Homo sapiens: one gene and its partners. The protein of the gene in region 1 interacts with the protein of each later gene in a pairwise test. Each region holds a gene or a part of one and is shown in the gene's direction. Other genes may lie near its edges. The genes, in order: MAPK6, THAP4, OSTF1, MTG2, GLRX3, NOL4 and METTL2A.

What was found.
Region 2: the proteins of MAPK6 (region 1) and THAP4 interact in a two-hybrid assay, tested with the Homo sapiens proteins (one large-scale study listed by BioGRID and IntAct).
Region 3: the proteins of MAPK6 (region 1) and OSTF1 interact in a two-hybrid assay, tested with the Homo sapiens proteins (one large-scale study listed by BioGRID and IntAct).
Region 4: the proteins of MAPK6 (region 1) and MTG2 interact in a two-hybrid assay, tested with the Homo sapiens proteins (one large-scale study listed by BioGRID and IntAct).
Region 5: the proteins of MAPK6 (region 1) and GLRX3 interact in a two-hybrid assay, tested with the Homo sapiens proteins (one large-scale study listed by BioGRID and IntAct).
Region 6: the proteins of MAPK6 (region 1) and NOL4 interact in a two-hybrid assay, tested with the Homo sapiens proteins (one large-scale study listed by BioGRID and IntAct).
Region 7: the proteins of MAPK6 (region 1) and METTL2A interact in a two-hybrid assay, tested with the Homo sapiens proteins (one large-scale study listed by BioGRID and IntAct).

The regions. Positions count from the first base shown.
Region 1 is NC_000015.10:52,025,719-52,029,218, forward strand, and holds part of MAPK6 (mitogen-activated protein kinase 6), read left to right. Parts: intron 1-1,920; exon of another isoform or gene 1,921-2,155; intron 2,156-3,500. UniProt on the Homo sapiens protein: Atypical MAPK protein. Phosphorylates microtubule-associated protein 2 (MAP2) and MAPKAPK5.
Region 2 is NC_000002.12:241,602,659-241,606,158, reverse strand, and holds part of THAP4 (peroxynitrite isomerase THAP4), read left to right. Parts: intron 1-3,079; coding exon 3,080-3,189; intron 3,190-3,500. UniProt on the Homo sapiens protein: Heme-binding protein able to scavenge peroxynitrite and to protect free L-tyrosine against peroxynitrite-mediated nitration, by acting as a peroxynitrite isomerase that converts peroxynitrite to nitrate.
Region 3 is NC_000009.12:75,126,514-75,130,013, forward strand, and holds part of OSTF1 (osteoclast-stimulating factor 1), read left to right. Parts: intron 1-1,055; coding exon 1,056-1,106; intron 1,107-3,500.
Region 4 is NC_000020.11:62,186,028-62,189,527, forward strand, and holds part of MTG2 (mitochondrial ribosome-associated GTPase 2), read left to right. Parts: intron 1-2,506; exon of another isoform or gene 2,507-2,811; coding exon of another isoform or gene 2,812-2,854; intron 2,855-3,481; exon of another isoform or gene 3,482-3,500. UniProt on the Homo sapiens protein: Plays a role in the regulation of the mitochondrial ribosome assembly and of translational activity. Displays GTPase activity. Involved in the ribosome maturation process.
Region 5 is NC_000010.11:130,174,391-130,177,281, forward strand, and holds part of GLRX3 (glutaredoxin-3), read left to right. Parts: intron 1-476; coding exon 477-516; intron 517-606; coding exon 607-699; intron 700-2,891. UniProt on the Homo sapiens protein: Together with BOLA2, acts as a cytosolic iron-sulfur (Fe-S) cluster assembly factor that facilitates [2Fe-2S] cluster insertion into a subset of cytosolic proteins.
Region 6 is NC_000018.10:34,214,914-34,218,413, reverse strand, and holds part of NOL4 (nucleolar protein 4), read left to right. Parts: intron 1-3,500.
Region 7 is NC_000017.11:62,447,897-62,450,890, forward strand, and holds part of METTL2A (tRNA N(3)-cytidine methyltransferase METTL2A), read left to right. Parts: intron 1-678; coding exon 679-833; 3' UTR 834-2,994.

The DNA.
Region 1 (3,500 bases):
CCCAGGAGGCGGAGCTTGCAGTGAGCGCCACTGCACTCCAGTCTGGGTGACAGAGCAAGACTACGTCTCAAAAAAAAATAAAAATAGTTGGATGTAGCTGGTGGTTACATGGACAGCACAGATCTAGATGATCTTTGCCCACTCTAAAATCTAAGCTGTAATTTAATAACTGGTTAGACTCAGTTTAATAATTGTCCTTTCTTAATGTACAAATTGGAGAGAGAGTATGTTGACTTAGTTTTTCTAATATGCCCAGATATTATTTCAGTATGTATTATAAAACAGTGCTGATTTTCTAATTGATACATCTGTGTTCAATAAAGTAGATAATCTAAGTTGTAAGCAAGTCAGTTTCTTTCCATCTTAACAGGTATTTTCACTTGAATTTTTAAAAAGTAGCTATTAAGTTTTCCTTAGTTATCCTGTGGAAAGCATTGGCAGGATAGTTTTTGCCTCTGGCCTAGTCCCTCTAGGCTTGTTGGCACTTGTTGATTACTTCCAGATTGATCTGCTGTTTATGTTAATTCCAGGTACCGAAACAGTGGTTCTTAACCTCCTACCTTTTTTTGTTTTGTTGTTGTCGTTGTTTTGAGACGGAGTTTTGCTCTTATTGTTCAGGTTGGAGTGCAATGGTGTGATCTTCGCTCACTGCAGCCTCCGCCTCCTGGGTTCAAGTGATTCTCCTGCTGCAGCCTCCCAAGTAGCTGGGATTACAGGCATGCACCACCACGCCCAGCTAATTTTATGTTTTTAGTAGAGATGGGGTTTCAACCATGTTGGCCAGGCTGGTCTTGAACTCCTGACCTCAAGTGATCCACCCGTCTCGGCCTCCCAAAGTGCAGGGATTACAGGCGTGAGCCACCGTGCCTGGCCTTAACCTCCCACCTTATGCAGTGGGAAGATTCTAACCCTATAGTCACAGGCCTATGTCCAAATCTTGGCATTTACTGTGTGTGTAAAGAGCATCAGTGCTCTTGTTTGTAAAATGACATTTACAAGACTGTAGTTTGAGATGAGAGAAATAATTTGTCATTTAGAAAATGCCTGTCATGGCTGGGCGCGATGGCTCATGCCTGTAATCTCAGCACTTTGGGAGGCCGAGGCAGGCGGATCACAAAGTCAGGAGTTCTAGACTAGCCTGGCCAACATGATGAAAACCCGTCTTTACTAAAATACAAAAAATTAGCTGAGTATGGTGGTGCATACCTGTACTCCCAGCTACTCTGAAGGCCCAGGCAGGAGAATCGCTTGAACCCAGGAGGCGGAGGTTGCAGTGAGCCGAGATCACACCATTGCACTCCAGCCTGGGCGACAGAGCAATACTCTGTCTTGAAAAAAGAAAATGCCTGTCACAGCCGGGCGCGGTGGCTAATGCCTGTAATCCCAGGACTTTGGGAGGCCGAGGCGGGCGGATCACAAGGTCAGGAGTTCAAGACCAGCCTGGCCAGCGTGGTGAAACCCCATCTCTACTAAAAATACGAAAAAACTGGCCATGGTAGCGTATGCCTGTAATCCCAGCTACTCGGGAGGCTGAGACAGAAAAATTGCTTGAACCCAGCAGGCGGAGCTTGCAGTGAGCCGAGATCGTGCCACTGTACTCCAGGCTGGGTGACAGAGCGAGACTCCCTCTCAAAAAAAAAAAAAAAAAAAGAAAATGCCTGTCACATAATAGGTCCTTAGTAGATGTAAGTTACCTACCCTCCCCCTCCTGCTTGGATTTTATAGCCCTCTGTAATTGAGTTTTATGCTTAAGATTCCAATCAGGCTTAATACATATTCTGAGTCTTCATCTCTACCCGTTACTGTAATTTCATGCCTTGCTTTGTTCATGTTGTATCCCATGTAGATTGTGCCATTTGTGCTCTGGATGTCTTCTCTTGACTTTTTTTTTAATCTTAATTTTTTTTTTTTTTTTTATAGGCGGGGTCTCCCTGTGTTGCCCAGGCTGGGCTCAAGCAATCATCCTGACTCGGCCTCAAAAAGTGCTGGGATTACAGGCATGAGCCACTCTGCTCAGCCTGTTGATTTCTCTTTATTTATTTATTTATTTATTTATTTATTTACTGTTTTTTGAGATGGAGTCTCACTCTGTTGGCCAGGTTGGAGTGCAGTGGCACGATCTTGGCTCACTGCAGCCTCTGCGTCCCAGATTCAGGTGATTCTTCTGCCTCAGCCTCTTGAGTAGTTGGGACTGCAGGTGCCCACCACCACGCCCGGCTAATTTTTGTATTTTTTTTTTTTTTTTTTTTTTTTGAGACGGAGTCTCGCTCTGTTGCCCAGGCGGAGTGCAGTGGTGCGATCTCAGCTCACTGCAAGCTCTGCCTCCCAGGTTCACGCCATTCTTCTGCCTCAGCTTTCCGAGTAGCTGGGACTACAGGCGCCTGCCACCACGCCCGGCTAATTTTTTGTATTTTTAGTAGAGACAGGGTTTCACCGTGTTAGCCAGGATGGTCTCGATCTCCTGACCTTGTGATCCGCCCGCCTCGGCCTCCCAAAGTGCTGGGATTACAGGTGTGAACCACCGCGCCCGGCAATTTTTGTATTTTTAGTAGAGACGGATTCGTCTCTGTGTTGACCAGGCTGGTCTTGAACTACTGACCTCAAGTGATTCATCTGCCTTGGCCTCCCAAAGTGCTGGGATTACAGGAGTGAGCCATCGCACCCTGCCAGCCTGTTGACTTCTTAAGGACTTACCTCGTTCTTGCCTACATCATGAATTTTTCCCTTTCTGGATTATCTTTATTAATATGCAGATGTGCTTTAGGGCTGTACTGTCCAGTATGGTAGCTACTAATCAATAGTGCTTTCTGCAATGAAATGTGTGGCTGTTAAAAGAAAAATTTAAAAAATTTAGGTCCTCAGTGATGCTAGTCATATTTCAGTTGTTCAGTAGCCATATATGGTGCTAATGGCTGCTCTATTGGACAGTGCAGATATAGAACATCCCTATCATTGCAGACAACACTATTGGACAGCACTAAGTGTGGCTTCCTTGTTTATAAGCCCTCTCGCCATTCCACATTATTCTCTAGCTACAGCCTCATTTCTCTGATTCTCTTCCAAGCCAGTTTTCAAAAGTTGTCTTTTTGTGCTCTCTCCACTTCCCTTTGCTTCTCAGCCTACTACAGATTGGCCTCCATTCTTACCACTAAAACTACTCTAGTCAAGGTTGCCAGTGGTTTCTATTTACTAAATTAGTCTTACAGGCTCTTGTAGGAGCATTCAATATAGTTGACCACTGTTTTCGGCCTATTCATCTACTTCTCATTTTATGAGACATATGTTCTTGTTTTCCTTCTACTTTACACCTTGTTATACTGTATGCTTTTTTTTGTTTCTGAGACGGAGTCTCGCTGTCGTCCAGGTTGGAGTGCAGTGGCGCAATATTGGCTCACTGCAACCTCCATCTACTGGGTTCAAGTGATTATCCTGCCTCAGCCTCCCCAGTAGCTGGGATTACAGGCGCACACCACCACGCCTGGCTAATTTTTGTATTTTTA
Region 2 (3,500 bases), on another chromosome or scaffold:
AACTGAGACACAGAGTGGTAAAAATGATACTTTCTGGTTCTGTTATATTTTTGGAGATATTAAGCTGACCACCAAATTACAGGCTTGTTAATCCAAACATAAAAACAAATGCATGTACTTAATTTATGTATCAAAATTAATCACCCTGGCCAGTGCGGTAGCTCATACCTGTAATCCCAGCACTTTAGAGGCTGAGTCAGGAGGATTGCTTGAGCTTAGGAATTGAAGACCAGCCTGGGCAACATAGTGAGACCTTGTCTCTACTGAAAAGTATTTAGCCAGGTGTGGTGACACATGCCTGTAGTCCCAGCTACTCGAGAAACTGAGGTGGGAGGATTGCTTGAACCCAGGGAGGGCCAAGGCTACAGTGAGCTGTGATCATAACACTGTACTCCAGCCTGGGTGACAGAGTGAGAACCTGTCTCAAAAAAAAAAAGAAAAAAATTAGTCACCCAATATTACTGAAAATAATAGTGCATGTTTGTATTTTACACGTACCCCTGAGCTATTTGGGGTCACAAGGAAGCTGTTAGTATGTGGTTCTCATATTCTTACCGTACAAGAAAGCAAAAGCCCCTTGAGGTCCCTCAGTATCCCTTCCCACCACCTGCTCCCCACAGGTGGAGAAATTGCCTGCTTTTAGGGAGATAGCAGTGTAGGCCTCTGAAGTAGAGGAGAGCCACCAGGGATGGGGAGTGGTTGAAGTATCTTTATTTTTTAATTATAGAAGTAATACACAGTTTTTTTAAAGTTTAAACAAAATATAAAAAGCAAACCCTCCCTTAGTCTCCATTACACAACTATATGTTAAGAATCTTATTAAACCAACTTGGTACTATTTGTATAATGCCTAGCAGTTTCAGAACGGGGCTGGGCACCTGGCTCTCAGACCCCCAGCTCTGAGACCCTCCATCCCCTTTTAGAAGATCTCATTGTTTTTAAAAATATCTCCTACCTTTTTATATTATTATTGATTGAATGCATGAGGTCAAAGTAATACATCTGCACATAAACCAAAAGGTGAGAATTCTGGGTAATACAAAATAACCCAGAACCCAAGCAGTCTTTTTTAAACTATAGATTATAACCCACGAAAAGGTCAGAAAGTCAATTTTGTGACTAGCATTCGAAGAAAAATGAACCAGAGTGGAAAATATATTTCAGTAAATGTGATGGTATGTGTGTTTGTGTGTGTGTCCTAGAATATGGTATAAATGTATTTCTTTGTCGGGGTTATGTTAGTGAGCATGTACCATTCTAGAAGGTGTAGCACCATCACTAGCCCAACAGAAATTTATCTTGGCCCAGCGCGGTGGCTCGTGCCTGTAATCCCAGCACTTTGGGAGGCCAAGGCGGGTGGATCACTTGAGTCCAGGAGTCCAAGACCAGCCTGGGCAACACAGTGAGACCCTAAAAAAATTTGTTTTAATAAATAAATAAGTTTATCTTGGCCAGGTGCGGTGGCTGACGCCTGTAATCCCAGCACTTTGGGAGGTCAAGGCAGGTGGATCACTAGAAGTCAAGAGTTCGAGACCAGCCTGGCCAATGTGGTGAAATTGTGTCTCTACTAAAAAAAAATACAAAAATACAAAAATTAGCCGGGTGTGTGGCTGGGCACAGTGGCTCACACCTGTAATCCCAGCACTTTGAGAGGCTGAGGTGGGCAGATCACCTGAGGTTGGGAGTTCAAGATCAGCCTGACCAACATGGAGAAACCTGGTCTCTACTAAAATTACAAAATTAGCCGGGCATGGTGGCGCATGCCTGTAATCCCAGCTACTCGGTAAGGCTGAGGCAGGAGAATCGCTTGAACTCAGGAGGCGGAGGTTGCAGTGAGCCAAGATAGCGCCATTGCACTCCAGCCTGGGCAACAAGAGAGAAACTCTGTCTCAAAAAATAAATAAATAAATAAATAAATAAATTAGCCGGGTGTGGTGGGCGCCTGTAATCCCAGCTACTCAGGAGGCTGAGACAGGAGAATCATTTCAACCCAGGAAGCGGAGGTTTCACTGAGCTGAGACCGCGACGAGCCTGGGTGACAGAGCAAAAAAATAAATAAATAAAGTTTATCTCTAAGAATCATAGAGATGGATTCCCTATAGAAACTCATAAGGTTGGTGAAATGATAAATGAGGCTTTTTTTTTTTTGGTTTGGTTTTTTTGTTTTTATTTTTGTAGAAACAGGGTCTGTGTTGCCCAGCCCTGTCTCAAATTCCTAGGCTCAAGAGATCTACCCGACTGGGCCCCTGAAGTGCTGGGATTACGGCCTTGAGTCACCATGCCAGCGAGTTAGTTTTTAAGCCGTGGTTTTGTGCCCTCAGTTCAAGATGCAGGTGCCTGTCTTTTACTGTTGAGAATTTGCACTAATGATGAAGGGTGATAAGAAACCATACCATAACTCAGCACCTGTTCTGTTTTTTACCGTAGGAATTGATTAGATTCTTACACAAGAGCATAGCTCAAAAGAGAAAGATTGTGTTAGGGTGAGGTTTACTGCAAGGGAGTGCTGAGGGCTGACACTGTGTGAGGCCTGGGCTAACGGGCCCAGGGCAAGGATATGCCCTGAGGTGATTAAGAACAGTGCTGTCTTCAGGAGCTGAGGGTCAGCAGGCAAGACAGACACAGCCAAAATGAGCAAGGTGGTGGAGGGGGCGGGCAGGTGTGCGGGTGTGGCTGGAACAGCCCGTCTTCAGGAGCTGAGGGTCAGCAGGTAAGACAGACACAGCCAAAATGAGCAAGGCGCTGGAGGGGGCGGGCAGGTGTGCGGGTGTGGCTGGAACAGCCCGTCTTCAGGAGCTGAGGGTCAGCAGGCAAGACAGACACAGCCAAAATGAGCAAGGTGGTGGAGGGGGCGGGCAGGTGTGTGGGCGTGGCTGGAACAGCCCGTCTTCAGGAGTGGAGGGTCAGCAGGTAAGACAGACACAGCCAAAATGAGCAAGGTGGTGGTAGGGGCAGACAGGTGTGCGGGTGTGGCTGGAGCAGCCACCTGGAGGGCACCCTGGACAGTTCTGGCATCCACGCAGCCCACGCCATCTTGGAGGCCAGTGCCTGGGCTTCTCAACTCCAACTTCCCGTCCAGGTTCAACTCCTTCCACCCGGACACGCGCAAGCCGATGCACAGAGAGTGTGGCTTCATTCGCCTCAAGCCCGACACCAACAAGGTGGCCTTTGTCAGCGCCCAGAACACAGGTGAGGCCCAGCTTGCGGGGCGGGAGGGCTGGCCATGGGAGGCTGCTGCCTGCATTCGAAGCAGGGGTGCAGGGATGCCCATGTGCAACCCTGCTGAGGCATGTGCTGGTGGGGACCGTGGGGATGGCCCTGAGTGTTGAGAGTGGTCCTGGGAGCCTGCGGGGCCGACTGTGTAGCTGTAGGGGCCTCCGGCACACAGGTTGTGTGCGTGCAGCCCCCTGACCATGAGGGCCCGTTTACCCAGTGCCACGTCTGCAGAAATGGCCATCAGCTGTGTGCATTCATTAGGAATTGCTGGAAAACAGGTTGGG
Region 3 (3,500 bases), on another chromosome or scaffold:
TATCTACTGATGGTCAAAAGATGTTTAAAATGTGTATCTTTATTCAGAAAGTGTTTTTTGGTTGTTTTTGTTTGTTTGTTTGTTTTGTTTTGTTTTTTGAGACGGAGTCTCGCTCTGTCACCCAGGCTGGAGTGCAGTGGCGTGATCTCAGCTCACCGCAACCTCTGCCTCCCGGGTTCAAGAAATTCTCTGCCTCAGCCTCCCGAGTAGCTATGATTACAGGCATCCCCCACCATGCCCAGCTAATTTTTGTATTTTTAGTAGAGATGGGGTTTCACCATCTTGGCCAGGCTGGTCTTGAACTGCTGGCCTTGTGAACCACCTGCCTTGGTCTCCCAAAGTGCTGGGATTACAGGCATGAGCCACCGCACCTGGCCTCAGAAAGTTTTTAGAACATTTGGTTGGTACAGGCCAGAGCACATATGGTCTGTGTAATTAGCCAACTCCTTAGAGCTGCTTGGGGTTTCTGGACTGGCTGAGTTACTGCTTCATATCTTTTAGCTCTTTAGCCTTATTAATGGTTGAATTACATATTAACTTTTCTCATACAGAAAATGTTCATTCTCCCTGAACATGAAGAGCTAGGATAATGATTTTCTTAAAATGAGCAGATAGCAGATGTTGATCTTAAAGTGTTCAAGGATTGAGGCCTTGTTTAAGAGAAAATCAAGCTTCTGGCTGTTTTTCATGACTCTAATTCTAGACATTTATATTTTTATGAAAAAATGTATACCACCTTTTAGAATTTCTACAAGGAAGAAGTTTTATTAATACTCTATTTTGATATACAAATGTCTTGCTTTGGTTGTAGAAGAATGCAAGATGTGTGTGGAGAATCTTTATATATGTAATTCTTTGAAGTTCATCATGGGAAAAAAATCTAGCCGTCTATTCATGTGTTAATTTTTCAGTAGTGTTTTATTATATGGCTTATGTGCTGATTTAAGTGTATAAAACCACATTGCTTATTAGAATATGATAGAATTTTGAATCTATATAATCATATTCTAATTCATGAAAAATCACATGGAGTCAAACTTTTTTTTTTCTTCTAGCCAGATGAATTATACTTTGAGGAAGGTGATATTATCTACATTACTGACATGGTAAGTCCAGATAACATCTTGTAATACCACATATAAAGACTGTTTTATGTAGCTATAACATTGTAAGTTATTTAAATATATATGTACATAGAAATACATATGTACAAGTCTGTTCATTTTAGCACAATTGATAGTAGCATAAGATTGAAAATAGCCCTTATTTCCATCAATAGGGAAAGAGTTGAATAAGCTTTGGTCTAGCCACAAACAGAATATTATGCAGCTGTAGAAAGAAATGGGGAATATCTCTATATGCTATTATGAAGTAATTTAAGTGAAAAAAAAAGCAAAGTGAGAAAATGTAGATAATATATCCTCAGTTTTCTAGGAAAGGGTGAGAGTGTATGTGTACACACACATACATGCAGACACTTGTTTTTCTCAATTTCAGATAAAAAGTTGAAAGATGAGTTGCAAAGTAAAATTTAGTTTTATTCTATGAAGAGTAAAGATCCTTTCTCTAGGTGGAAGGAGAGAAATAGGGTATAATGAACATAGATGGAAGATAGACTTTTTAGAAAATTATACCTTGTTTTGTGGATTTGACTTTGAACTGATGTAAACCTTGACATGGTTAAAAATTGAAGTAAAAAGCAATCCCTAAAAATTAAAAGCAGAATGAATCAAATGAACTTAATTGTACCCTGGTAATTGGCCTAACCACACAGAGAGGAAATATTCCAAGTTTAAAACTCAGCAATTTGACTGAACATCCATAGTAGAATATGGATATGTATGAAAGACATATATATATATATATATATATATATATATATATATATATATATTTTGTCCATATATATATATATTTTGTCCATATATATATATATTTTGTCCATATATATATATATTTTGTCCATATATATATATATATATTTTGTCCATATATATATATATATATTTTGTCCATATATATATATATATATTTTGTCCATATATATATATATATATATATTTTGTCCATATATATATATATATATATATATATTTTGTCCATATATATATATGGACAAAAAGAAATGGCCAAAAAAGGGTAAATTGTTTTAAATCATGCCCTTGTTAGGGAAATGTAGGTATTGCTAATTCTGAGATTGTTGCATGTGTATTGTGGTTTAGAGCAAATGAGTAATTAGGTCGGTGATGTTGCTAACGGATTTTCAGCATAGCAAAAAGGATACACAGATGTAAGATTAATGACAGTTTAAGAAAAACTCTGTATTCCTTCATCTGAATTGCAAGGATCACATTGTATTTTATCTAAAATAAAACAAAAATATTCCCTGCTGTGTTCTTTGAAAGGGCCTAGGAAAAATGACCAACCCAATAATAATATGTTATTTTCCATTGAAATGTACAGGCTTCTTTGAGAAATGGCTGGTACCAAGTCAGGGGCAGCAGAGGTACAAGATAAACCCAGAACATCCTCTTATTAGAAAACATGGAAGCTCCTAAAGACAGTAGGGTCACACTGAAAGGACTTGGGAACGAACTTGAAGAGACTCCCACTGGCCAAAGATAGGACAATTTGAGCATCAATTAGGGCAACAACTTCCAAGAATTGAAACCCATTAAATACATTTAAATTTATGAGTTTCTAATGTTACTTCTGAGGAAATCTCATTGGTCAGCATGAGAGAATGCTAGGAAATCAGGTTTTTATTCTGACAACTGTTAAGGGAAAGAATCACCATTTATTCTGTGTTTTCTTTATGAATTTCTTACCTGGGCAATCTGAGAGCTGATGAGGAAGTTTTTGTTTAAAGAGGTATTCAGGTTATTTCAATGAAGAAGGAATGATAGAATTAGAATGTCACCATCTTGCAGCCTCTAGGAAATAGTGGATCTAGACAATGATCATCAAGGGCTACTAACATTACAAAAAGAAGCCGACTAGATAGTTTGCATTTCCTAATGGAAGAAATCAATACTGCCTAGGAAATAGCCTTGCCAAAAAAAATTGGAGCTGAATCTAATTAAACCTCTAGAACTGATGACCAATTTATAGGCAATACAGGGAACAGAGGAACATGCTTAATGATAACACAGGGATACAACAGGCAAAATCCATAGAGGTTGACACTACAGAACAAACCAACTGGATTCTTCAACAAATACATTGTAAGAGATAAAAAAGAATGGAGAGACAACCTATAGATTAAAAGATACTTAAAGACAAATCAATCATATTGTATAGCCCTTATTTGAGTCCCAAATTATGGGGCAGTTGGGAAATTTGAGTATCGACCTAGATATTTGATGATATTAAGGAATTATTGTTGGAAAAAACTTTTAAGCTGTGATAATGGCATTATAATTGCCTTTCAAAAAGTATGTGTCTTTCAGAGATACGTACTGAAATATTTACAAATGAAATAATATGATGTCTAGAATTTA
Region 4 (3,500 bases), on another chromosome or scaffold:
TCCATGTCACCTGCATCAGGAAGCCTGGTTTCCAGAATATCCGGGCTGGATGGTGTAACGTTCCAGCAGGCTGAGCCGTGGCTATGCTTGTGTTGATGAGCCCGAGTTGTTTTTCCCCAACCTGTTTTTATGCACCACCCCTGAGCCTTCCCATCTGATAGCTCTGGGTTAAGTCTCTTCACCTGTCTGCCCAGTTTCCGCAACTTTAAAATGAGGATGATGAAGGACTTACTTCACAGAGTTTTATGAGGACTGAATGAGTTAATCCCTGAAAAATACTTAGAACAGTATTTTGCAAGTAGTGAGGTAGAGGTCTTGAAGGTTTACTGTGAAATTATTTTCAGGTACTTTTTGTATTTGGCACTACCATAAATGGGGTTTTTTCTTAATTTTAATTTACAGTTGTTTGCGGCTGGTATTTAAGAATACAACTGATTTTTTTATATTAGCCTGATAACATGCCATCTTGCTCAGTTCCCTTCCCTGGGACTTTTTTTTTTGTTTTTTTTTTTTTTTTTTGAGATGGAGTCTTGCTCTGTCACCCAGGCTGGAGTGCGGTAACGTGATCTCGGCTCACGGCAGCGTCTGCCTCCCAGGTTCAAGCGATTCTCCTGCCTCAGCCTCCCGAGTAGCCGGGACTACAGGCACGTGCCACCACGCCTGGCTAATTTTTATATTTTTAGTAGAGATGGGGTTTCACCATGTTGGCCACGCTGGTCTTGAACTCCTGATCTCAAATGATCCGCCCACCTCGGCCTCCCAAAGTGCTGGGATTACAGGCATGAGCCACCGTGCCCAGCCTTCCCTGGGATTCTCTGTGGAACTCTGTCCTCTCTTCTGTAAACAGGGACAGTTTTACTTCTTCCTTTTTTCCCCCTTTATTTCAGTGTGTGAAAGGACATTGTTGCATAGCAGTGGTATGTGTGGAGGCCCTTTTTCTCCATCTTGGGAGGTAACCATTCAGTATTTCTTCATTAAATGTGATTAGCTGTCGGCCGGCCCTACGTAGTGCCCTTATCAGGGCGAAGATGTTCCCGTCTGTTCCCAGTTTGCTGAGATGTTTTGTTTTCCTCCTCATGAGTGGGTGTTGAGACGGTGGTACCACCTGTTGATATAGTGAAGTGCCTGGGCTGAGTTTTGACTGCTTGATGTGGCCTTGTGTTCTGAGATTACCCCTACTAGGTCTTGATGTGTGATCCTTTCTGAACTGCTGGATTCAATTGGGTAATATTTTGTTAAGAGTTATTTGCATCTATATTCATGAGGGGTATGGTCTATAATTTTATTTTTTCTTAGTGTCAGATTTTGGTACTAGCCTCATAGGATGAGTTGGATAGTGATCTCACTTCCTCTATTTTCTGAAAAAGCTTGTGTAAGATTGGCACTGTTTCTTCCTGGAATGTTACATGGAATTTACCAGGAAAACAAGCCGAGCTAGAGTTTTCCTTTGGGGAGTGTTCTTTTATAAGAAATTTAACTTATTGAGTAGATACAGGGCTATTCTAGATTGTTTATTCTTGTGTTTCTTTAATAAGTTGCCTTTTTCAAGAAATTTGTCCATTTCATGTAAGTTGAATTTGTTACTGAATTTGCTGGCATGAAGTCGTTCCCAGCATTCTCTTGCCCTCTGGCTGTCTGTAAGGTGTGTCCTGATAACCCGTTGAACATTCCTGACAGTGGAGGTTTGCGCTCTCTCGTTTTCCTGATCAGGCTAGAAGTGTGTTAGTTAGCTTGTCTTTTCAGTGAACCTGTTTTTTTCTGTTACATGTTATTGTTGTCTCTTTATTTCTGCTCTGTATTATTCTCCTCCTTCTACTCGACGCTTACTTTGCTCTTTCTGGTTTCTTGATTTGGAGCCTTAGGTTACTGATTTTAGATCTTTCTTCTTTACCAAGGTAGCCATTAGAGCTGTAAGTTTCCTTCTAAACACTACTCTAGCTGCATCTCTTAAATTCTGGTATTTCATGGTGGCGGGCGCCTGTAGTCCCAGCTACTCGGGAGGCTGAGGCAGGAGAATGGCGTGAACCCGGGAGGCAGAACTTTCAGTGGGCCGAGATCACACCACTGCACTCCAGCCTGGGCGACAGTGCGAGACTGTCTCAAAAAAAAAAAAAAAAAATTCTGGTATTTTGCATTTCCATTATAATTCAGTTCAAAACATTTTGTAATTTCTCTTTTGATTTCTTCTTTGGCCTATGGATTATTTAGAAGAAGCTTGTTTGATTTGCAGGTATTTGGGATTTTCCTAGATATTTTCTAGCTATTGACTTCCAATTTAATTCCGAGAATAGACCCTGTGGTTGGTATTCATATACTTCCCCCCAGCCCCACCACAGAAGCTCTGTCACACAGGCTGGAGTGCAGTGTGTGATCATGGTTCACTGCAGCCTCCAACTCCTGGGCTTAAGTGATCCTCCCACCTTAGCCTCCTAAGTAGCTGGTATTATAGGCATGCACCACCATGTCCAGCTAATCAGCTAATTTTTTTTTTTTTTTTTTTTTTTTGGTAGACACAAGGTCTCGCTATTTTGCCCAGGCTGTTCTCAAATTCCTGGCCTCAAGTTTTTCTCCTGCCTTGGCCTCTCAAACTGCTGGGATTACAGGTGTGAGCCACTGTACCGGGCCTTTCTGTATACTTCAAGTAATCTCTAGATTATTTATAGTACAATACAATGTAAATGCTATGTAAATAGCTGTTATACTTTATTTTTTAAATTAAAAAAATTGTTGTATTGTTACTGGTTTTTTTGTTTGTTTTCCAGATATTTTTGACGTGAGGTTTGTTGACCCCACAGATACGGAGGACTGACTATGATTTCTTCTCAATGTATTGAGACTTATGACACATCTTATGGTCTGTTTGATGACTTCCACCTGTACCTGAAAACAGTGTATATTGTACAGTTGTTGGATGTACTGTTATGTAAATGTCAACTAGATAAATGTTTTGATAGTATTGTTCAGATTTTATGTCTTTACTGTTTTTATTTTTCTATTTTTAGACAGGGTCTCAGGCCAGGTGTGGTGGCTCATGCTTGTAATCTCAGCACTTTGGGAGGCCAAGACAGAAGGATCGCTTGAGACCAGCCTGGGTAACTGGGAGACCCTGTCTCTGCAAAAAAAATTTAAAAATTAGGCACAGTGGCACTTACCTGTAGCCCCAGCTACTCAGGAGGCTGAGGCAGGAGGATCTCTTAAGTACAGGAAGTCAAGGCTGTAATGAGCTGTGATTATGTCACTGTGCTCCAGCTTGGGTGACAGAGTGAGACTCTGTCTCAAAAAAAAAAAAGAAAAAAAAGTGTCTCTTTCTCTCATTCTATTGCTCAGGCTGGAGTGCGGTGGCATATTCATAGCTCATAGCAGCTTTGAATTCATGGGCTCAAGTGATTCTCCCACCTCAGCCTCCAAAGTAGCTGGGACTATAGGGGTGCGCCACCATGCCCAGCTAATTCCTTTGGTAGAGACAGGAGTCTTGCTATTTTGCCGAGGCTGGTCTCGAA
Region 5 (2,891 bases), on another chromosome or scaffold:
GCTCGTGCAGATGGGGGTGTGGGTCTGATCCAGGGGTTGGCAAGTTGCAGCTGGCTGCCCATTTTTGTAAATAAAGTTATATTGGCACATAGCCACATCCCTTCATTTATACATTGTCTGTGGCTGCTTTTATGCTGACAGTTGCAGCAGAGAGCAGAACTGAGCAGTTGCAGCAGAGACTGTCTGGCCTGTAAAGCCTGAAGTGTTTAGTGTCTGACTCTTTAAGAAGAAGTTTGCCCACCCCTGGTCTAACCCAATATTGTCCGGAGAAAAATCCAGATAAAGTCATATGTTGGAATGACTAATTCTGTGTAGTACCAGACAGATTAAGAAGTAAAATCATTTCCATTGGTCTGTAGTACATTTTGTTAGCAGTGAAACGGTTTTCTTGATTATTTTAAAAACATCAAATGCATAGAGGTTTTACACTTTGATTTAACTGTATTTCCAGTTAAAATGTCTTCTCTTTTTTGCAGTGTTGAATATGAAACATTCGATATATTGGAGGATGAAGAAGTAAGTTCTGTGTTTGATGTTTCACCCTTGTCTTAGCTTTAATCTTAAGGGCCTGATAGGATGGTTTCAGGATTCCTGTTGTTTCTTTAGGTTCGGCAAGGATTAAAAGCTTACTCAAATTGGCCAACATACCCTCAGCTGTATGTGAAAGGGGAGCTGGTGGGAGGATTGGATATTGTGAAGGTAAGGCCAGTTCTTCTGCTGTTCTAAAGAACGGAAAAGATTTTGGTATGTTTAAAAATGATTTCATATTGAATGGAAACTTGAGAGTTGTTTTTGACTCCTGTTTCCAGCCTGACTCTCAGACATTTCTAGACCAGTATCACCGTTTCTGTGTGCATGACTACCCTGCCATTCTCACTGTCCCCACGTGGCAGCCTGTTCTTACTTTCACACCTGAGCTAACCATTGCATCTCCTTTCTGTGGGGTGATCTTCCCTGTCACTCAGGGTCCTTGTTAGATCCTGCTTCAGCTCCCAGACAACAAATTGTTTTTTCTTGCCTTACTCATCTGCCCTTGGGTGCATGGAGTGACAGCAGTGTGAGGCCTGTGGCCCGGTGCTGCCCATCCTTGCCACAGAGGCTGAGGATCACTGCCCCTGGTCCCCCGAAAGAAAAAATGTAGGTCCTTTTTGGTTTTGAGATGCTTGGAAATCTGTTATCTGTTAGATTGTGTTTTAGATAAGACACCATTTCTTATGTATCTTGAGTCCTTCCTGATGCTTTGTGTATTTTAGGAGTTCAGTAAATGGTTGTTGGATGGATAAGTGACTTTACTTCTTGATTGAGTTTTAAATGGACGTTACTTTGCATGTATTTAATGTCTAGAATTCAGGGCAGGCCCACCAACTAACACCTGTGTGCTCTGTAGCTCTTTGATTAGCCCAAAACAATAAACAGAAGCTGTAGCTTTAATATCTACACACAGACCCCACTGCACCCCAGGCCCACTGTGGGCATGGTGGCATCGAGGAGGGTGGTAGCTGGTTGGGTATAGAGAGGAGCTAGACAGGAATGCTGGGCAGGAATGCCAGGGTCTGCTCAGGGGCATGAACAAAACTGCCCCGAAAAGTGGGTTGCTGACTGCCCTCAGGCCTTCCTCTTGCCTCAATCCATGAGAGAATTTTCTGAGGTCAGATCTTCGACTTTTTATGTGGAAAACAAATAGCAAGTAGTACTACTTCTAGTTATGTTGTAAAATAAAAGTTTTTTTTTTTTTTTTACATTTTTTTTTGAGAGAGTTTCGCTCTTGTTCCCCACTGGAGTGCAATGGTGCAATCTCGGCTCACTGCAGCCTCTGCCTCCCAGGTTCATGTGATTCTCCTGCCTCAGCCTCCTGAGTAGCTGGGATTACAGGCACCCGCCACCACGCCCCACTAATTTTTGTATTTTTAGTAGAGATGGGGTTTCACCATGTTGGCCAGGCTGGTCTTGAACTGCTGACCCCAGGTGATCCGCCCACCTTGGCCTCCCAAAGTGCTGGGATTACAGGCATGAGTCACCGCGCCTGGCCAAAATAAAAGTTTTTAACACGTGCTTTTGTAAAGTGAAGCACTAGCCTACCACTGAAATGACATCAGCACTTTGGACCAATATGTTTTATAAAAACAAAGCTTGAGTTCCATTGATGCAGAGGCTCTTTTTGTCCTTTGGTGGCCTCTGTGTAGGTTTTGTTTCCTGTGGAGTTCCAGGTTTGATATCATACTTCTTAAACAAGCCAGTGAGACATTTTTCCTGGGGAATGGTCTCACTCCTGGAGGAAAAAATTTTTAAGACTATTGCTCTTGAATAGCCCTGAAGCAGCAGAAACAGATCTGCATTTGTTTCTTCCCTCCCTCCCTCCTTCCCTCCCTCCCTCCCTCCCTCTTTCTCTCTCTCTCTCTCTCTATATATATATATATAGTCTTATTTTTGTAAGACACAAAGAATACTCAAACCCCAAATACTCTTGAGCCTGTTCTTGTCTGAATGTTTTATAGCCTGTACCTTAGCCATTGGTAACTCTTGGGAAGATACAATCAATAAATCTCATTTAATTCTAAAGCTAAGCTGCGTGGGTAACTTCTTTTTAGTTATATAACAGAGTGTTATATGATTTTTTATGTTCACCTGCTAAGAACATATACGTTTGAAATGTGTGATATTGTTAACGTTTTTCCTTGAGAAGATATATGGAATAGATCTTACGATCCCATTTTGATCTGTTTCTTGCAGAATGCAGTTCTTCATGTTCAGTTCAATTAAAAGATGTTTGAAATGGTCTAATCTGGCTGGCCTCTTTGGAGCAATGAGCGTTTGTTTTGTTGAATGAGGGACTGAATGATGATTTAGTTACTCAGCTAATCTAGTGTCCTGAGAAAATTGTGAGTTGTTAT
Region 6 (3,500 bases), on another chromosome or scaffold:
GAGATACCAGTTTTTTATTTTTCCGTTGGTTCTTCCTTGTCCTATTAGTAGCCACAATAGGGAGATGGGGCAAGATTTGGCACTCGTATATATTTCTTCTGTAATCTTCCTTAGTTTGCTGGGATCCTGCTCCCTACGGGTTTACTCTCTAGACTCACTGCATAAGACGGAGGAATGATGAAGTAGAAAATACAGGCATATGGCAGGAGAACTTTCAAGGACTTTAATTTTGTGTCAAGTCTATAAAGACCTTTTCCTAATAGCTGTTGTGTTTGCTAAGACTTTCACTCTTTGTTTTTTGTTTTTTTTTTTTTGGTCTAACTGGGAAAGATGAATGTGAATCTACTATGTTTTAGGTTATATTCATTTTTACAATCTTTATATAACAAGATAAAACAAACTTCATGGATAGCATAGATGGCAAGAAACATGGCATAGTGAGTAGAGTGTTGATTTTACAGCACAATTTAAATCCTGGCTCTGACGTTTACTGGAGTTCTGGGTCGGCTAAAGTTTAACTAAAGATGCAGTTTCCTCTTGTAAAATGTTAGTATTAATACTAGTCTTACTAGTTTTGCATAGTTAGTAGTGTATATAATATATACTAACATATACTATATATGCATATGCACACATATATACACATACATATACACACACATACACACAAGCATGTGGTATATGTAGCATATGCCGGGGACATAGTAAATGCTAAAAAAAAAAGTTGCTTAAAATATGATTCATAGAACATGAAAATCACGATGTAATTATAATTAGGTATATTTTATGAACTCAAAATCACATTGCAACACGGAGCTAAAATACAAGGTCAAGCGCGGTGGCTCATGCCTGTAATCCTAGCATTCTGGGAGGCTGAGGCAGGCGGATTGCCTGAGCTCAGGAGTTTGAGACCAGCCTGGGCAACACAGTGAAACCCCATCTCTACTAAAATACAAAAAAAATTAGCTGGGTGTGGCCATGTGCCCTTGTAGTCCCAGCTACTCGGGAGGCTGAGGCAGGAGAATTGCTTGAACCCGGGAGGCGGAGGTTGCAGTGAGCCGAGATCGCACCATTGCACTCCAGCCTGGGCAACAGAGTGAGACTCCATCTCAAAAAAAATAAATAAATAAAAAAAAAGAAAGAAATACAAGGTATACTTGTATGTATTTATGTACATATGTATTATTAAGATTTATTCTACCTACTCCATTTTTGGAAGAAAAAATGACTGTTATTGTAAAAGTGATACTGTCTCAGTTTTTTAAAAAAGTTAAATGAAAAGGAAAGAAATAAAGAAAAAGTCATACCAAATGTCCCATCAAAATATAATCACCGTAAGCTAATTATGAACATCATTCTAGATTCCTCTCTAGAAATATATGCCAAAAGAAGAGTCGATAAAATGACTGATAGTTGCATATGGACAGGCAGAAATAATTTTCTAAAACTAGGATGATGATGATATGCTAATTTAAGTAAGAATAAGAAAATATAAGATTGTCAATGCGACAAAAGAAGAAATACATAAAATTTAATGAATTGCTAATAGATAAATGTTTCTTCTCAAAGATATTTATTCCTGAAGTTAATGGAAAAGATTAAGAAAAACTTTAAGATGTTGAATTACACTTATTTTACCAATTACAAATTTCCGTTTTATAAGTATTATTGACTTTCTCTAATGATAAATGAGAAGCATATTTTCACTTCTTCCCACCTCCTTGTTTCTTAGATCCTGGTTTACATTTCATTTCACTTATTATATTATACTTATTATATATTATAATTTATTATATTCATTATATTATAATTATGTTTGTGTTGTCAGGGTTGTTGATATTAATGTTAAATTATGTAATTTCATTTTAAACATTATTTTCCTATTTAAATGTTTATTATCTGTTTTGTTATCTGGTTTCCTTTACCTCTGAATTCCTTGATTTGATTGACTCTAATTACAGTTTATCATTTTTTTCCTAAAGTAGGTCCATGCACTCTATTCTTTGAATTTTATATACAATTGAGAGTATTTGTCTTTTACCTTTATCCTTGAAGGACAACTAACCAGATGCAGATTCTGTATTTTACTTTTTCTCTCAGAACATTATAGATATTGTGTGTGCTCTGTAAAATTCTAAGGCAAATTGATTTTCCCAAATTTCATGAATTGTTTACTTCTTTATCCTTGAAATTAAATTATTTTGCTAAGATATATTTGAATTTCTTGTCTAACTCTATATTTTGTCCTGCGTAACTGTGCCCCTGTTTATGACTTCAGTTAGGCCTGTGTTCTGGTGACATAATGTATATCTTCTGAAGTCTAAATCTGTACAGTTGATCCTTGAACAACACAGGTCAGGATTGCCTGGGTCCACTTGTATGTGGATTTTTTTCAATAAGTATTTGGAAAATTTTTGGAAATATATAACAATTTGAAAAAACTCTCAGATAAACTGCATAATCTAGAAATATAAAAAATCTAAGAAAAATATATGCCATGAATGCTTAAAATCTATGCAGGCACTAGTCTATTTATGGCTTAATAGACTATCTTTTTGCTAAGGCTTGCAGTCAACAGTAGACTATTAGTAGTTAAGTTTTGGGGGAGCAAAATTATATGCAGGTTTTCAGGGGCAGAGGGTGTCAGTACACCTAACCCCAGGTTGTTCAAGGGTCAGCTGTATTTTCGATTTTCTATTGGGTGTTTTCACCAAGATATCCCAAAATATCTCAAATTAAGTATGTCTAGAAACACATTTTTCTTCCTTCCATTTTCCCATCCGAGGTCCTCCGAGCTGACACATCTTTTTCTTATTCCCTCTCTCCATGGATAGCAGCACAACTTTACTTACCTGTACAAGGTGAAATTTGTATGGCAGCCTTGATTTCTCCCTCTTATAGTCAATGTTCAACTGTTGGTTGATTCTACTAAACTAATATTTCTTGAAGCCATCAGATTCTCACCATATAATAAAATATGCCTATTGCTTAATAATTTGTTAAATTTCCACAAAACTATTTTGAAGAAAGATTTAATCTCCAGTACCTGGCATAATGGGTGATGCATTTTGATGTTCAGTATTAATGGAATAAATAAAAATCACTTCCCAATCTGACATGACATAATGGGACATTATACAACAGCTTCTTATTTACCACCACACAAGAGCTTTTTAGTTTTATCTACATCTATATCTATCTGTCCAACTGTCCATCCATCCAACTATGTGTTTTAATTGTGATAAAAAAAACACACAACATAAAAGTTACCATATTAATCATTTTACATTGTAGACTTAAGTAGTGTTAAGTATATTCACATTGTCTTGCAACAGATCTCCAGAGCTTTTTCATCTTGCATAACAGAAACTATATTATACAACAGTTCCCCTTTTTCCTTTCTCTCCATCACTTGGTGAAGTGCCATTTTAGTTTCTGATTATATGAATTGAACTACTTTAGATGCCTCATATAAGTGGAATCATACAGAATTTGTCTTT
Region 7 (2,994 bases), on another chromosome or scaffold:
TGCTCACACCCTCTTCCACCCTGGGCTAGGCTACCCATGGCAGCCAGGCACTGGGGCCCCCAGGCAGCCCTGGCTTGTCCATGCCTTCAGTCCTGCTCTGCTCTCCCTGTCTGCCACTGTCCAAAATGGGAAGCCTGCCCACTCTGCAAGGCTCATCTCCAGTCCAGCCTGTTTCACCCTCTACACGGGGTTGTGCTTTGGTGTGCCCGGGTCAGGGTGAACCCTGGGTTCTAGGGGTGCTGGGAACTGCTCTCCTCTGCAACTGGCCTATCCACAGGCTTCATCCTTCACCTGGGCCTTCCAAATTCTCCGTTCCTGGGCCCTTTTCAGGGTCACCTTCTTTGAGCCTTTGGTTAAGATGATGAAACCACTTTCCTAAAACAATTGCTTTGACATACATAGATATTTTTGCATAAATTTTAAGGTGTTCATAGAGCCTAAAGGCCAAATATAAACCAAAGGTTTTTAAAAAAGAAAAAACCGCGGCCCATACGCAGTGGCTTCCCCTACCTAAACATGAACTTACTGTTACCAAGCCACCACTGCATTTATAACCAAATGGCCATGTAAAAAACATGACAGCAACTTCCCAGAGCCCCTTTTAACAAGGACTTAGTAGATAAAAATGCCTTTTCTTGAGGGGAAAAATGCATAAACATCTTTTATTTTCCACACTAGAGGAACTGGACACGCTTTTCACCACTGCTGGACTGGAAAAAGTTCAGAACCTGGTGGATCGCCGACTGCAGGTGAACCGAGGAAAGCAACTGACAATGTACCGGGTTTGGATTCAGTGCAAATACTGCAAGCCCCTTCTGTCCAGCACCAGCTGAGAGGCACCTGCTGCCAACACGATGCAAGCCCATTGTGTTTCCGGGCTTTTTTAAAAAAAAAATTGTAGCACTGGGCGTGGTGCATGCCTGTAATCCCAGCCACTCAGGAGGCTGAGGCGGGGAGGATCCATTGAGCCCAGCAGTCCAACCTGGGCAAAATAGTGAGAGACCCTGTATCTGAAAGTAATAATAAAAATAAAAAATATAAATGAGGTCTCGTTGATGTTGGACAATTCAAGAATTCAGACTTGAACCTTAAACCTAGGAAAAGTTACTTTGTATCAGGATTCTAACAATTATGCTTCATATTTGTGAAGTCCTTTAAAACATAATTTTCTCAAGTTCTTTCTTTGAGATCTCAATCTGTCTTAGCATTTTGTAACTAATAACTGAAATTTTATTCAAAGGAATTGTAAACCTTAAACCACCAATTTATTTCCATGTGAAAAAGTGTTACATATGACAAGTGTTTTTTGACTGTAATTGCGTTAAATCTTTTGAGAATGTAAATGCCGGGCTAGGCAATTGCAGTTAATACATACAGAGGTTAGTGAAGGGCTTATTAAGTTGTAGGGGAAGCAAGCTGGGAAGAATCAGATCAGATATTTTCCTGACAAAAAAAAATGACCCTACAGAGAGCATCAAAATGTGGTGTTCTTGTTAAGTAATTGATCGTGGTCTTCGCTTTAATCTTAGTTCCGCCAGGCACGGTGGCTCACACCTGTAATCCCAGCACTTTGGGAGGCCAAGGCGGGCGGATCAGCTGAGGTCAGGAGTTGGAGACCAGCGTGGCCAACATGGTGAAACCCCGTCTCTACTAAAGATAAAAAAATTAGCTGAGTGTGTTGGTGGGTGCCTGTAATCCAGCTACTTGGGAGACTGAGGCAGGAGAATTGCTTGAACCCAGGAGGCAGAGGTTGCAGTGAGCTGAGATTGTGCCACTGCACTCCAGCCTGGGCAACAAAGCAAGACTCTGTCTCAAAAAAATAAAAATAAAAAAAAAATCTTAGTTCCATGGAATTTTAAGCATTGTTCCCCCTCTAACCTGTGTCTAAAGAATTAAAAGAATTTGGCCGGGTGCGGCAGCTCATGCCTGTAATCCCAACACTTTGGGAGGCTGAGGCAGGCGGATCACGAGGTCAGGAGATCGAGACCATCCTGGCCAACACGGTGAAACCTCGTCTCCACTAAAAATACCAAAAAAATTAGCTGGGCATGGTGGCACACACCTGTAGTCCCCTGTAGTCCCAGCTACTCGGGAGGCTGAGGCAGGAGAATCGTTTGAACCTGGGAGGTGGAGGTTGCAGTGAGCCAAGATCATGTCACTGCATTCCAGCCTGGGCAACAGAGGAAGACTCCGTCTCAAAAAAAAAAAAGAAAAGAATTTTCACTTTTTGCAAAATTATCTTTTTTAATGCACCCTTAAGTGTTTGACACAAAAGGAATTGAGGGAACTTCTTAATTTTAACCACATCATCACTTCACTTCTGAATGTGATCATTATCAGTGTTAGATGCCTTTTTTTTTTTTTTTTTTTTTTTTTTTTTAAGGAGACAGGGCTCTCACTTTGTTGCCCAGGCTGGAGTTCAGTGGTGCAATGATAGCTCATTATCACCTCAAACTTCTGGCTCAAGCCATCCCTCCGCCTCAGCCTCCTGAGTAGCTAGGACTGCAGGTGGGCACCATCATGCCTAGCTAATTGTTAGATCCTTTTTTTTTATGTTCTGCATTTTTTCAGTTATTTTTACATATTTCTCTCTTGATCCATGCAGTTATAGGATATATCCTTAATTTTAGAAAGTAAGGACTTTTCGACCAGGCGTGGCGGCTCATGCCTATAATCCCAGCACTTTGGGAGGCCGAGGTGGGCAGATCACTTGAGGTCAGGAGTTCCAGTCCAGCCTGGCTAACATAGTGAAACCCCGTCTCCACTAAAAAATAAAAAATCAGCCCGGCATGGCTGTGGGCGCCTGTAATCCCAGCTACTCAGGAGGCTGAAGTAGAATTGCTTGAACCTGGGAGGCAGAGGTTGCAGTGAGCCGAGATGGTGCCATTGCACTCCAGCCTGGGTGACAAGAGCGAAACTGCATCTCAGAAACAAAGATGCCTAGCTTTCACCTTGTTGATGTTTTTCTAAATTTTGGAATAATAAATTTATATA